2 separate regions of the Homo sapiens genome follow, and region 1 is linked to region 2. Evidence: fine-mapped expression QTL. A gene starts in region 2. The other region holds a variant in brackets. All regions are shown on one strand. Distances are from middle to middle. Region 1 holds the start of LOC105372407 (a long non-coding RNA gene). Region 2 holds the start of LIPE-AS1 (LIPE antisense RNA 1).

Evidence for each region.
Region 1: its variant is fine-mapped to the expression of LIPE-AS1 in whole blood (TOPMed, PIP 0.99).

The regions. Positions count from the first base shown.
Region 1 is chr19:42,520,772-42,526,256 of GRCh38, forward strand. It overlaps CEACAM1 (CEA cell adhesion molecule 1), which reads right to left. Exons shown (of 9, transcript NM_001712.5): 3 at 1,153-1,431; 4 at 496-750. The region is part of intron 2 of LIPE-AS1 (LIPE antisense RNA 1); the gene reads left to right. It overlaps LOC105372407 (a long non-coding RNA gene), which reads left to right and starts at 1,987. Exons shown (of 2, transcript XR_935974.3): 1 at 1,987-2,594; 2 at 4,847-5,098. The variant C/T (reference allele first, on the strand shown) is at 2,896.
Region 2 is chr19:42,394,956-42,400,203 of GRCh38, forward strand. LIPE-AS1 (LIPE antisense RNA 1) reads left to right here and starts at 2,193. Exons shown (of 3, transcript NR_073180.1): 1 at 2,193-2,269. LOC101930071 (a long non-coding RNA gene) reads left to right here and starts at 2,173. Exons shown (of 2, transcript NR_126041.1): 1 at 2,173-2,269. RefSeq lists enhancers at 1,720-1,859, 1,880-2,039, 1,894-2,577, 2,578-3,261.

The sequences.
Region 1 (5,485 bases), 130 kb after region 2:
ACCGGGCAAGCCGGGAGTAGAGCAGGGAGCAGAGTCTGAGCTGCTCATCCCTGATGAAGGGCATTTCCTTCTCTCATTTAGGGAAAACTATTGTGAGTCTGTTTTAAAACCTCACATATTCCTTATATCTCATGGAATAGGTAAAAGAAGGCCAAGAAGTTACAGAAAGGGACATGTTAGTGACAGAAGCAAATTGACCTTGAGGACCCTTTCTGCTTCCCCCTCTGTGAAGCCCCTCCTGCTACACGGGGCTTTCTGGGGCTGAGAGAACCCCCTCCCCACATTCCAGGCTGGACCTAAGGTCAGCTGTGAGAAATCAGAAAAACAAAGGGAAGAGAGTCTGCACAGATGAATTGAGAGGGTTCAGGGGAGAATTTGGACTTGTTTGTGCCTGTTGGATACAGGCTGCAAAAGAAAATTTCTTCTCTGCTCCTATTTGAAAACCAGAAAGCTTGTACCCCAGATCTTAGTGTTGATGCTCCAGGAATTACTTACCAGTGACTATGATCGTCTTGACTGTGGTCCTGTTGCAGCCAGTGACTGAGTTATTGGCGTGGCAGGTATAGGATCCACTATTATTCACAGTGATGTTAGGGATAAAGAGCTCTTGTGTGCTTTGCTGGAATGTTCCATTGATAAGCCAGGAGTACTGTGCAGGTGGGTTAGAGGCTGCATAGCAGGAGAGGCTGAGGTTTGCCCCTGGACGGTAATAGGTGTCTGAAGGGGAAATGGTGGGGGTGTCCGGGCCATCTGGAGCAAAGAGAATAAAGCCACAGGTGATGTCATCAGAGGGAAGGGGAAGCTGCTGGTCTGGAGAAGGGCCACAGTGTTCCTCTCTACTAAGTCACAACCCTGAAGTCCTAACCAAACCTCCATTGTGTCCACTGAGTCTGGGTCTGAGACATTCACCTGTTTCTCCCATCACAGGCTGTGGACCCTGAGCCTCCCAGGACAGGAGCAGCCTCTCCCCTCCTATTCTTGGTTCAGGCTGGGGCTGCCCAGGTTTGCCTGGGGAAAGGAAGTCATGGCCAGCCTGGGTGTCCAGGGTTAAGGGTCTGCGTCCTTAGACCTGAGAGGGACTGAGAGGCCTGGCCTCTGGCTGCGTGGATTTGGGCTGGCAGCCTGGGCCACAGAGGAACAGAAGATACTCACAGGTGACATTCAAGGTGACTGGGTCACTGCGGTTCGCACTCACTGGGTTCTGTATTTCACACTCATAGGGTCCTGTGTCATTCCTTGTGACACTGAGTAGAGTGAGGGTCCTGTTGCCATTGGACAGCTGCAGCCTGGGACTGACCGGGAGGCTCTGATTGTTTATCCACCACAGGTAGGTTGTGTCCTGAGTCTCAGGTTCACAGGTGAAGGCCACAGCATCCTTGTCCTCCACAGGGTTGGAGTTGTTGCTGGAGATGGAGGGCTTGGGCAGCTCCGCTATGCAGAAAACAGAGAGAAGATTGCCCTGTGTGGCACCTTTGATTCCTCCACAGGCATTTTTCTTTTCTTATTTATTTATTTTTTTTGGAGATGGAGCCTCGCTCTGTCACCCAGGCTGGAGTGCAATGGCACGATCTCGGCTCACTGCAACCTCCACCTCCTGGATTCAAGCAATTCTCCTGCCTCAGCTTCCTGAGTAGCTGGGATTACAGGCACATGCCACCATGCCTGACGGGGTTTCACCGTGTTGCCCAGGCTGGTCTCAAACTCCTGAGCTCTGGCAATCCGCCCGATTCGGCCTCTCAAAGTGCTGGGATTACAGGCCTGAGCCACCGTGCCTGGCTGGGCATTTTTCTTTCTTTCTTTTTTTTTTTGAGACAGAGTCTCGCTTTGTTGCTGAGGCTGGGGTGCAGTGGCACGATCTTGGCTCACTGCAACCTCTTCCTCCCGGGTTCAAGCGATTCTCCTGCCTCAGCCTCCTGAGTAGCTGGGACTACAGGTGCATGCCACCATGCCCGGCTAGTTTTTTGTATTTTAGCCAGGATGGTCACTGTTAGCCAGGATGGTCTCGACCTCCTGACCTCGTGATCTGCCCGCCTCGGCCTCCCAAAGTGCTGGGATTCCGTCCGGGCATTTTTCAATCAGAGTTGGCATCTCCCCACCTCTCAGCCAACCCAAGTCCCTAAAAGCCCATGGCAAGTGTGTGTTTCACAAGACAGATGTGCAATGATCTGAGGGCTCAGAGACCGTGAGGCCGCCTGCTCTGTGTGAGAGAAGCACAGACTTTCTCAAGTGTGAACTGAGCAGCAGTGTTGGGTCGTGGACAGACCGAGGACTGGGAGTCACAGCCCCAGGCACTTCTGGTCCTTCCCTGACTGGCTGATGCCTGCCTGACCCACCTGTGGGTCCTCACCTGGAACATACAGGTGCTGGGTCCCTTCCAGCTTCACAGTCCTACTTTGCCCCACTAGGTGTGTTTTCTCTGCAGCTTCCCTGTCTGAGGACATCCTAGAGATGGGTGATGATGGGACTTCCTATTGTCCTTAAACCCTGAGGATACTGAGCAGCCTGGCCTGGGACTGTATGTTTCAGCAGAAATAACAGGGGACACCAGGGGCAAGCCTGAAGGTAGCTCAGTCGTCAGGCAGCAGAACCACAAGGTGGGGCAGTTTTTCCCAGGTGTTTGATGATGACTGACTTGAGCCAGTGACCCCCTAAAGATAGAGCAGAGTCCAAGGAATGATCTAGAAAAGAGTGAGGGTGACAGGCAGGGGCTGCCTGGATTTAACAGCATATCTACGTTCCTTGTCTTTGGTCTTTAATGTCCCTTTTCCCCCTGAAAAGAGCAGATGATGACACTGTGGATCTTTTCTGAAATATGTGGGTTTTTTGCAAATGCAGAATAACCAGCTAGTGGAACGGAAGGAGCATGAACTTGCTGAAAGCCTGACCCTCATGGAC[C/T]GTGTGTGTTTGGTAGATCTGGGATATAAATTTGAGAAGTTAAATTATTCCATTTGTGAAAATTGTTATTAATACTCTGGATCTAACACCAATTAATAAGAGGAATATTCTCTAGAGAGCGTGATAAACTCTTAAACCAAGCTCTGAAGTCCAGTAGGATCATGTTATGATCAAAGAAAGATGCTGAAGTCAGTTTGAAATCAGTGACTCCCTGGGTAGAAGGGACTCATGGGTCCTGTTAGGAAGACAGAACTTGTCAGAAAGGATATCTGAGAGTTCTCAATTGCATTAAGAGAGAAACGATGCCATATGAGGAGAAGTGATGTATGTTATGTTAGTAAATTTAGAAAGAGTTCTATGTTACAAATTCCTGTGGAAATTCAGGTAAAAAGAGGAACCCAAAACAGTCATGTGAAATGCTTTCTTCCTTTTCTCTCAACCTCAGGAAACACAACTAGAGTTTGACCAAATTCATCCAAATTGGGCAGAGTCTAAGTGAGACACCAGTGGCTAATGCATCTCCCTGTCTGAGAGATCCCACCTTATGACAATGGTGTCATCATGAGGACACAGGTGTAGGTGGAATGGGCAGCAAACCCATCAGACAGCACCTGCCTGGCTAGCTCTACCTGGGGAAGGTCCCAGGAACCACTAGAGGATGTGAGCCCACAGCAGAACAGGGATGGAGTTAGGAGTCAAATGGGTGAAATGAGCCCATGGGCTTTGGGGACTGCAGACCTGTCCTTCTGCCTCTGATCCCCTGGTGAGTCAGTATAGAGAGTGTATGGAGGAGTCGCTCGTCCCTGTCCCCTGGCCTGTTCCACATGTCAGCCTCACTGAGGGACGTGGGGACAGTGGCTTATGATGGACCTGGCAGGGGTGGCTGCTCTGGGCTCATTTCTGTGCCTTTCCTATTGCCTGGGAGGTGGGCCTGGCCACAGTGTGAGCGGGAAGGGAACAGGACAGTCAACCTTGTTAGACGGAGTGTCTGGGAAAGGCCTAAGGGTGGAGGAAACTGTGCAGTTCAGCTGGGATAAAAGGAGAGGAAAATGAGGACATGGAGGAGCAGAGAGAGTCAGAGATGCCCATGACAGTGAGCAGTGGGGGCTAAGTGACCTTAGAGACCCCAGCAACCAGGAGCCTCTGGTGTCCCAGAACCAAGACCAGGGAGCCCTGAAAACCTTCCCACAGCCGAGCAGCCCCAGAGTCACATGAAATATGGTACTTGGGGTGGCTTTAGGGGTAGATGGTCAGGGGATGGAACATGGGTCTCAGTCTCTGGAGGGATGGGGAGCAGGTATGGCAAGAACCTCCCAGGATTCTGCAACCAGATCCAGTCTCTAAAGAGGTTATGGATCATTCAATCATTCATTCATTCGTGAGAGAACTACTGAGTGTGTGTTTCATATTGGGCCCTGGCTGGTGCAGGGTGTGAGTGAGGAGAGAAAGCAAAGTCCTTTCCTTTATCCTCCTGTGGGAGTGACACCAACACATCAGGAAACACAGGATTTCAAGTCCAGGGAGCAGAGGTGTGGGTCTGAGGGGATAGGCCTGAACATTTTTTTTTTTTTTTTTTGAGATAGAGTCTCACTCTGTCTCCCAGGCTGGAGCACAGTGACATGATCTTGGCTCACTGCAACCTCTGCCTCCTGGGTTCAAGCGATTCTACCACCTCAGCATCCCAAGTAGCTGGGATTAGAGGCACGCACCACCATGCCCGACTAATTTTTTTTGTATTTTTAGTAGAGATGGGGTTTCACCATGTTGGCCAGGCTGGTCTTGAACTCCTGACCTCAAGTGATCCGCCCACCTTGGCATCCCAAAGTGCTGGGATTACAGGTGTGAGCCACCACACCTGACCCAGGCCTGAACATTTCTGACACTGACTCTAATTGTTGAATAAGTTCCAGAATAAAACTTGGTTAATTCTCCATTTGATCTCACTCCCCAGACCAGGATCTCCCCTCTGGGCTGCAGATGCCTAAGAAGAAAGGAACTGAACCAACTCTGGTATTGGGGTCCACAGATGCCAAATAAGGCCCCTGGAGTAGAGGAGAGGTTAAGACTGTGGCTGAAGACAAATCTCCTGTAACTGATCTTCCAGTTACGGTCTGTGTGACCTTGATATAGTGACTGTATTTATTGCCATGTGGCTCAGTTTCCCCTCAGTGAAATAGTATAAATGGTTAATGGTTTTGGCTTATCTTGTGGTCTGTGAATTAACCTTAAAATATTTATAATTATTTGACCTCAGCTCTGCATAGGGGAGCTGCCCAAATAAACAATCTTATTTTATTTTATTTTTTTGAGATGGAGTCTCGCTCTGTCACCCAGGCTAGGGTGCAGTGGTGTGATCTTGGCTCACTGCAACCTCTGCCTCCCAGGTTCAAGCAATTCTCCTGCCTCAGCCTCCTGAGTAGCTGGGATTACAGGCACGCACCACCATGCCCGGCTAATTTTTTTGTATTTTTAGTAGAGACGGCATTTCACCATGTTGGTCAGGCTGGTCTTGAACTCCTGACCTCATAGTCCATCCACCTCGGCCTCCCAAAGTACTGGGATTACAGGCGTGAGCCACCGCTCCCGGCCG
Region 2 (5,248 bases):
TCTTTGCTCATGGTCCTCCTGGTAGGAGCTGGATGAGTGGCCTCTCAGTGACTGGCCATGTAACTGCATCGCTGGGGTGTCTGTTTTGCATGTGGAATAGGATATTTCTTGTGTGCTGTGATCACGGGCGATTCTGTGGTTGTGTGCCTATATTTGTGTTTGTGCTTGTAGGTGATTATATTGCTGCATGTGTGTGATTCTTTGTGTGGGTGCAAATGCAAGATCAAATCTAACACAAATTGTGATGGCACGTGTTTGGTGTGATCTTGCATTTCTGATTCTGAGGTGCTGGGAGTGTGTCTATAATTGGAATCTTGAGAACCCTTCTCTCAGCTGTGAGGCCACTCCCTTACATAACATCCCATAGGTGACCCCTGGGAGAGATCCTTCCAAGATGAGCCTTGGTTTCTCCCTAATGGGGATAGTGGGCCCAGTGGCTCAAGGAGAAACAGGAGATTGAAAGGGAAGGTGGGAGGGGACCAGTGAGGCCAGGGAGAGGGTAAGAGACGTGATGGTGACACAGAAAAACGATGGCTGGATTGGGACAGAGGAAGAGCTGCCCAGAGACGGGGATCTCTGTCCATTCATTCCATGAGCATTTCCTGAGCCCCTGCAATGTGCCAGGACCTCTGGTCGGTTCAGGGTCTGGGGGAAAGCAGAGAGACCCAGAGAGATGACCCCCACCAGGAAAGCTGTTGCTGCCCCAAGGTGGCCCACTGCCTCCACAATGGGCCTCAGTGACAGTTCTGAGTGACCGAGATGCAGTGATGGGGAGGGACAGAGAAGGCCAGATCTGTCCAGATCAAAGAACAGAGGCCATGGGGGAAAGGTCCCTTCCAGGCGAAGGAGACCGCCATGAATCATGTTCTTATCACCTCCTAATAGGCTCATGATGCAAGTGCACCTCCTAATCACTATTTTCGACCCCAACCAGGCTCACGCCCACAGTCAGAAGGGTTGGACAAGCTTAGTATCGTGGATTCACGGGAGAAAATATCTGGGAGACCCCATCCTTGGACCTGCTTTCCCCAGGACCCAGGAGTCCGGGTCCCCAGCTCTCCAGTTCCCCAGCCCCAGGAGTCCCAGCTCTCAGCCCCTCTCCTTTTGTTTGTTGCCTGCGTTTTCTTTTTTCTCTCTGGGCCTGTAACTCTTTGTTTATCTCCATCTATGTTTTGTGTCTCTCTTGTATCTTTACATCTGTATCTGGATTCTCCCTCACTAGGCCTCAATTTTCTCACTTGTAAACTGGGGATAATACTACTAATAATAATCCAATCTCTCAGAGCTGTGGCGAGGAAGACATGAGATAATTATGTAAAATGCTCAGCACAGAACCAGGCCACAGTAAACTCAGTACAAGAGAGCTCTGTTATTATTACTGTTTTATTTTTGCCATCTCCCCTTTGGTATCTCTATTTTTCTCTTAGTCTCACGTGAGTCTCCAGTCTCCTCTAGCTCTGGGTTCCTTTTGCAGACAGCACCTGCCTCTGACTTCCCTTTTCGGGATGAGGAAAGGGCATATCCAGGCCAGAGCTTCCCCTGAGCCTCTTCCTTCTCCCTCTCCATTACAAGCTCCGCCTCATTACCCAGAACACTTGCCTGGGGGTAAGGCCTGGCTCCCTTCCCATAAATAGCCTCATAAAATCCTGAACCCCAAACCTGTCATCCCTGGGCGGGCGAGTGACTCAAGATCCCGGAGTTCCCGCTCCTAGACACCAAACCTTCAGGTTTCCAGCCCCCTCCTCCCTCTGACCCAGGAGTCCGGGCCCCTAGTCCCTCCTTCCTCGGGTCCCAGACTTCTCCTCCTTCAGAACCAAGGAGTCTGAACTCTCAAATCCCCAACCTTCCTCAAGACCCAAGGATCGGGTCAGCAAACAGCCTAGGTATGTGGGGCCAGAAACTCCATTCACGACCATTCTGCGACCGTCTACGCCCAGGGCTCCCACCCCGACTCAGTCCCTCCGGAGGCGGGTCCGACACGCGAGGCGCTTCTTTGGAGTCTGGCGGCGAAAGCTATCCATGACGTCAGTCACTATCTTCCAGCCAATGGACACTCGGCCTTCTACCTCCCTGGGCCACTCAGGACCCTTTGCCTGGTAGGCGGGGCCCACAGCCCAACTCGGGCAGCGATAGGCTTTCGGAGACGCCAGTCTCTGCCAGGCCCAGTCAGTCGGCCAATAGACCCGGAACCTGAGGGATCGGAATCCTGGTCCACTCCGCAGAGGCCCGAGCGGGCTCGCGAGGGAACGGGTTCTCCGAGTCTGGCCGGGTAAGCCCTTTCCAGCACGCCTAGTATTAGGATTCTGCACATAGCTCGGGTGGAAAACCGTGAGGCTTAGTGAGGCTTGAGGCGGAGGGGGGAGGAGCTCAGTCCCGGCGAACCCATCTTGCTTTCTTGGAGAAACTGAGACCGGGATACTGGATCTGTTATTCATCCATCCGTTCCTCCCACCCTAAGCCTGATTCTCGTCTGCTCCTGCCTTCCTGTTCCTTCATCCGTTCTGCCCTTCCTGCCCTCAATTCTCTCACTCACGGATTCCCTCGTCTAGCCACTCACTCACACACTCTCCCACCTATTAGTTAGACAAACATTTCCTGAGGCTTCTGGTGTGCCAAGCCTCGTGCTGGGCGATGCTGGTGACCAAGATGAGTCAGGCCTGGGCCGTGCCCTCAAGGAGCCCGGGTCAGATGGGAGGATGGACGTTGATGGGCATGGGTGTGCGGAGACGGTGGGAGCCCAGGAGAGACTTTTTTGAGTTTGGCGTGGTCGGGAAAGGGTTTCCAGGGGAGGGGCCATTGGAGCTGGATCTTGGAGGAGCAGAAGGTGCCAGGCAAAGTGGAGATGCCAGGCAAAATGGGTGTGGGGAGGGTGTTTCAGCGTGACCAAAGACAGGGAGGCATGCAGGAGCAGTACTGCGTGCAGGTGCCTAAGCGGAAGGCCAGTCAAGTCTGTATGGCCAGCAGGGGAACTGTAAGGCTGGAGGAGGCCGAAGAGATGAGCAGAGGCCAGGCTGAGGAGCTTGGACTTTGTCCTGAGGGTGAGGGGGTAGTGGAGAGCCATGGAAGGGTTGAGAGTAGTGGAGGACAAGGTCATAGTTGGTCCAGAACTGGAGGAATGAGACTGGAAGCCAGTAGCCCAGGAGGTGGCTCTGGCAGGGATTCAGGTAGGAGAGAGTGGAGCCTGGATCAGGGAAGAGGCCGAGGGGATAAGATAGAGATTCAGGAGGCAAGGCTTGGTGCTGTGGCTCGTGTCTGTAATCCCAGCACTTTGGAAAGTTGAGGCGGGAAGATCACTTGAGCCAAGGAGTTCAAGACCAGCCTGGGCAACATAGTGACAGCCTCATCTCTACAAAAAATTAGCCAGGTGTGGCCAGGCGCGGTGACTCACTCCTGTAGTCCCAGCACTTTGGGAGGCCGAGGCGGGTGGATCACGAGGTCAGGAGTTCAAGACCAGCCTGGCCAAGATGGTGAAACCCTGTCTTTACTAAAAATGCAAAAAATTAGACAGGCTTGGTGGTGGGCACCTGTAATCCCAGCTACTCGGGAGGCTAAGGCAGAAAATTGCTTGAACCCAGGACGGGGAGGTTGCAGTGAGCTGAGATCGCGCCACTGCACCCCAGCCTGGGCCACAGAGTGAGACTCAAAATAAAAAAAAAAAAAAGAAAAATTAGCCAGGTGTGGTGGTGCATGCCTATGGTCCAAGCTACTGAGGAGGCTGAAGCAGGAGGATCACTTGAGCCCGGGAAGTCGAGGCTGCAGTGAGCCAAGATGGTGCCACTGCACTCCAACCTGCACAAGAGTGAGACCTTATCTCAAAAAAAAAAAAAAAAAAAAAGAAAGAAAGAAAAATAAATAAGGAGATTCAGGAGGCAGAGAGAACAGAAAGTGGGGATTGATGGGCTATGGGACAAGGGGTTGTCCAGCATGAGACCCAGAGCTCTAGTCTGGAGGACAGTGGAGCCATCTCTGAGGTGGGGACAGGAAAAGAGGAGCAGGTTGATGGGTAGTGACTGTTTTGACAGAGGTGACCAAGGGGTTCTATGAGTTGGACAAGGAGAGTGGTGACTCAGGCCAGTGGATCTGGACCTTCAGGAAGAGTTCTGGGCTACAGCTCCCTGCCCCAGCACAGGCCCTGACTCAGAAGTCACTTGCTGGGTGAACGAGGACCTCTGAGCTGAGGATCCCTTGCTTCGCACCCCGTGAGGAAACGGCTTTCTTGTTTCTGCATCTTCAGTCTCTCCCACTCCTCCAGCATTCAAACATGTCCATCATCTCTAAACACATGTGCCCTGTATCAGGCTCTCTTGTGGCGCCCACTGGCTCAATCCCTTACCTTCCACTCCCTCTTCAACCCACTATGTCTGGCTGCCTAACGGCCATGACCCTGCAGTGGCTCTGGACAAGGTCACTGAGGTCACCTGCTCATTGCTGACACCTGAGGGTAACATTTCAATCCTCATCTGACCTGGTCCACTCCCTGAAACTCCCTTCACCCTACATCCTCCTTCCTGGGCAGCTTCCTCCCTCTCTGGCTGCTCCTTAGAACCCGCCAGCCTTGCCTTCCACTGCCCACCCCCGCCCACCCCTTTACTAGGGGTGTGATCCTCAGGGCTGTCTCTGTCCTGGCCCTCTTGTTGCTTGTCCCACCTGCCCAGGCTTCCTGGAAAGGTTCTAGTCCCTTGGTTCCACCTAGACTGCATTTTTTTTTTTTTTTGAGGCAGAGTCTCATTCTATTGCCCAGACTGGAGTGCAGTGGTGCAGTCTCGGCCGACTGCAACTTCTGCCTTCCAGGTTCAAGCGATTCTCTTGCCTCAGCCTCTCAGTTAGTTGGGATTACAGGCGTGCACCACCACACCTGGCTAATTTTTGTATTTTTAGTAGAGACAGTGTTTCACCATGTTGGCTGGGCTAGTCTTGAACTCCTGACCTCAGGTGATCCACCCGCCTCAGCCTCCCAAAGTGCTGGGATTACAGGTGTGAGCCACCACACCCAGCCCCAGACTGCACTTCTGACCCTTGTTGTCTCCTGGATTGTCTTCCTGAGACCTTCCAGCTCACCATGTCCAGAATGGCCCTCCACAGGTCCCACCTGTCACACACACACCTGAGCCTCCTCCCATTGAAGAGACAGCTTCACTGTCCACCTGCTTCCATGGCCAGACCTGGGTGTCATCTCTGTCCCCTTGCTGTCCTGTAACCTCATCAGTAGGTGCTGTCCTTCCCACCTTTTATGGCTCTGGGATGCTAC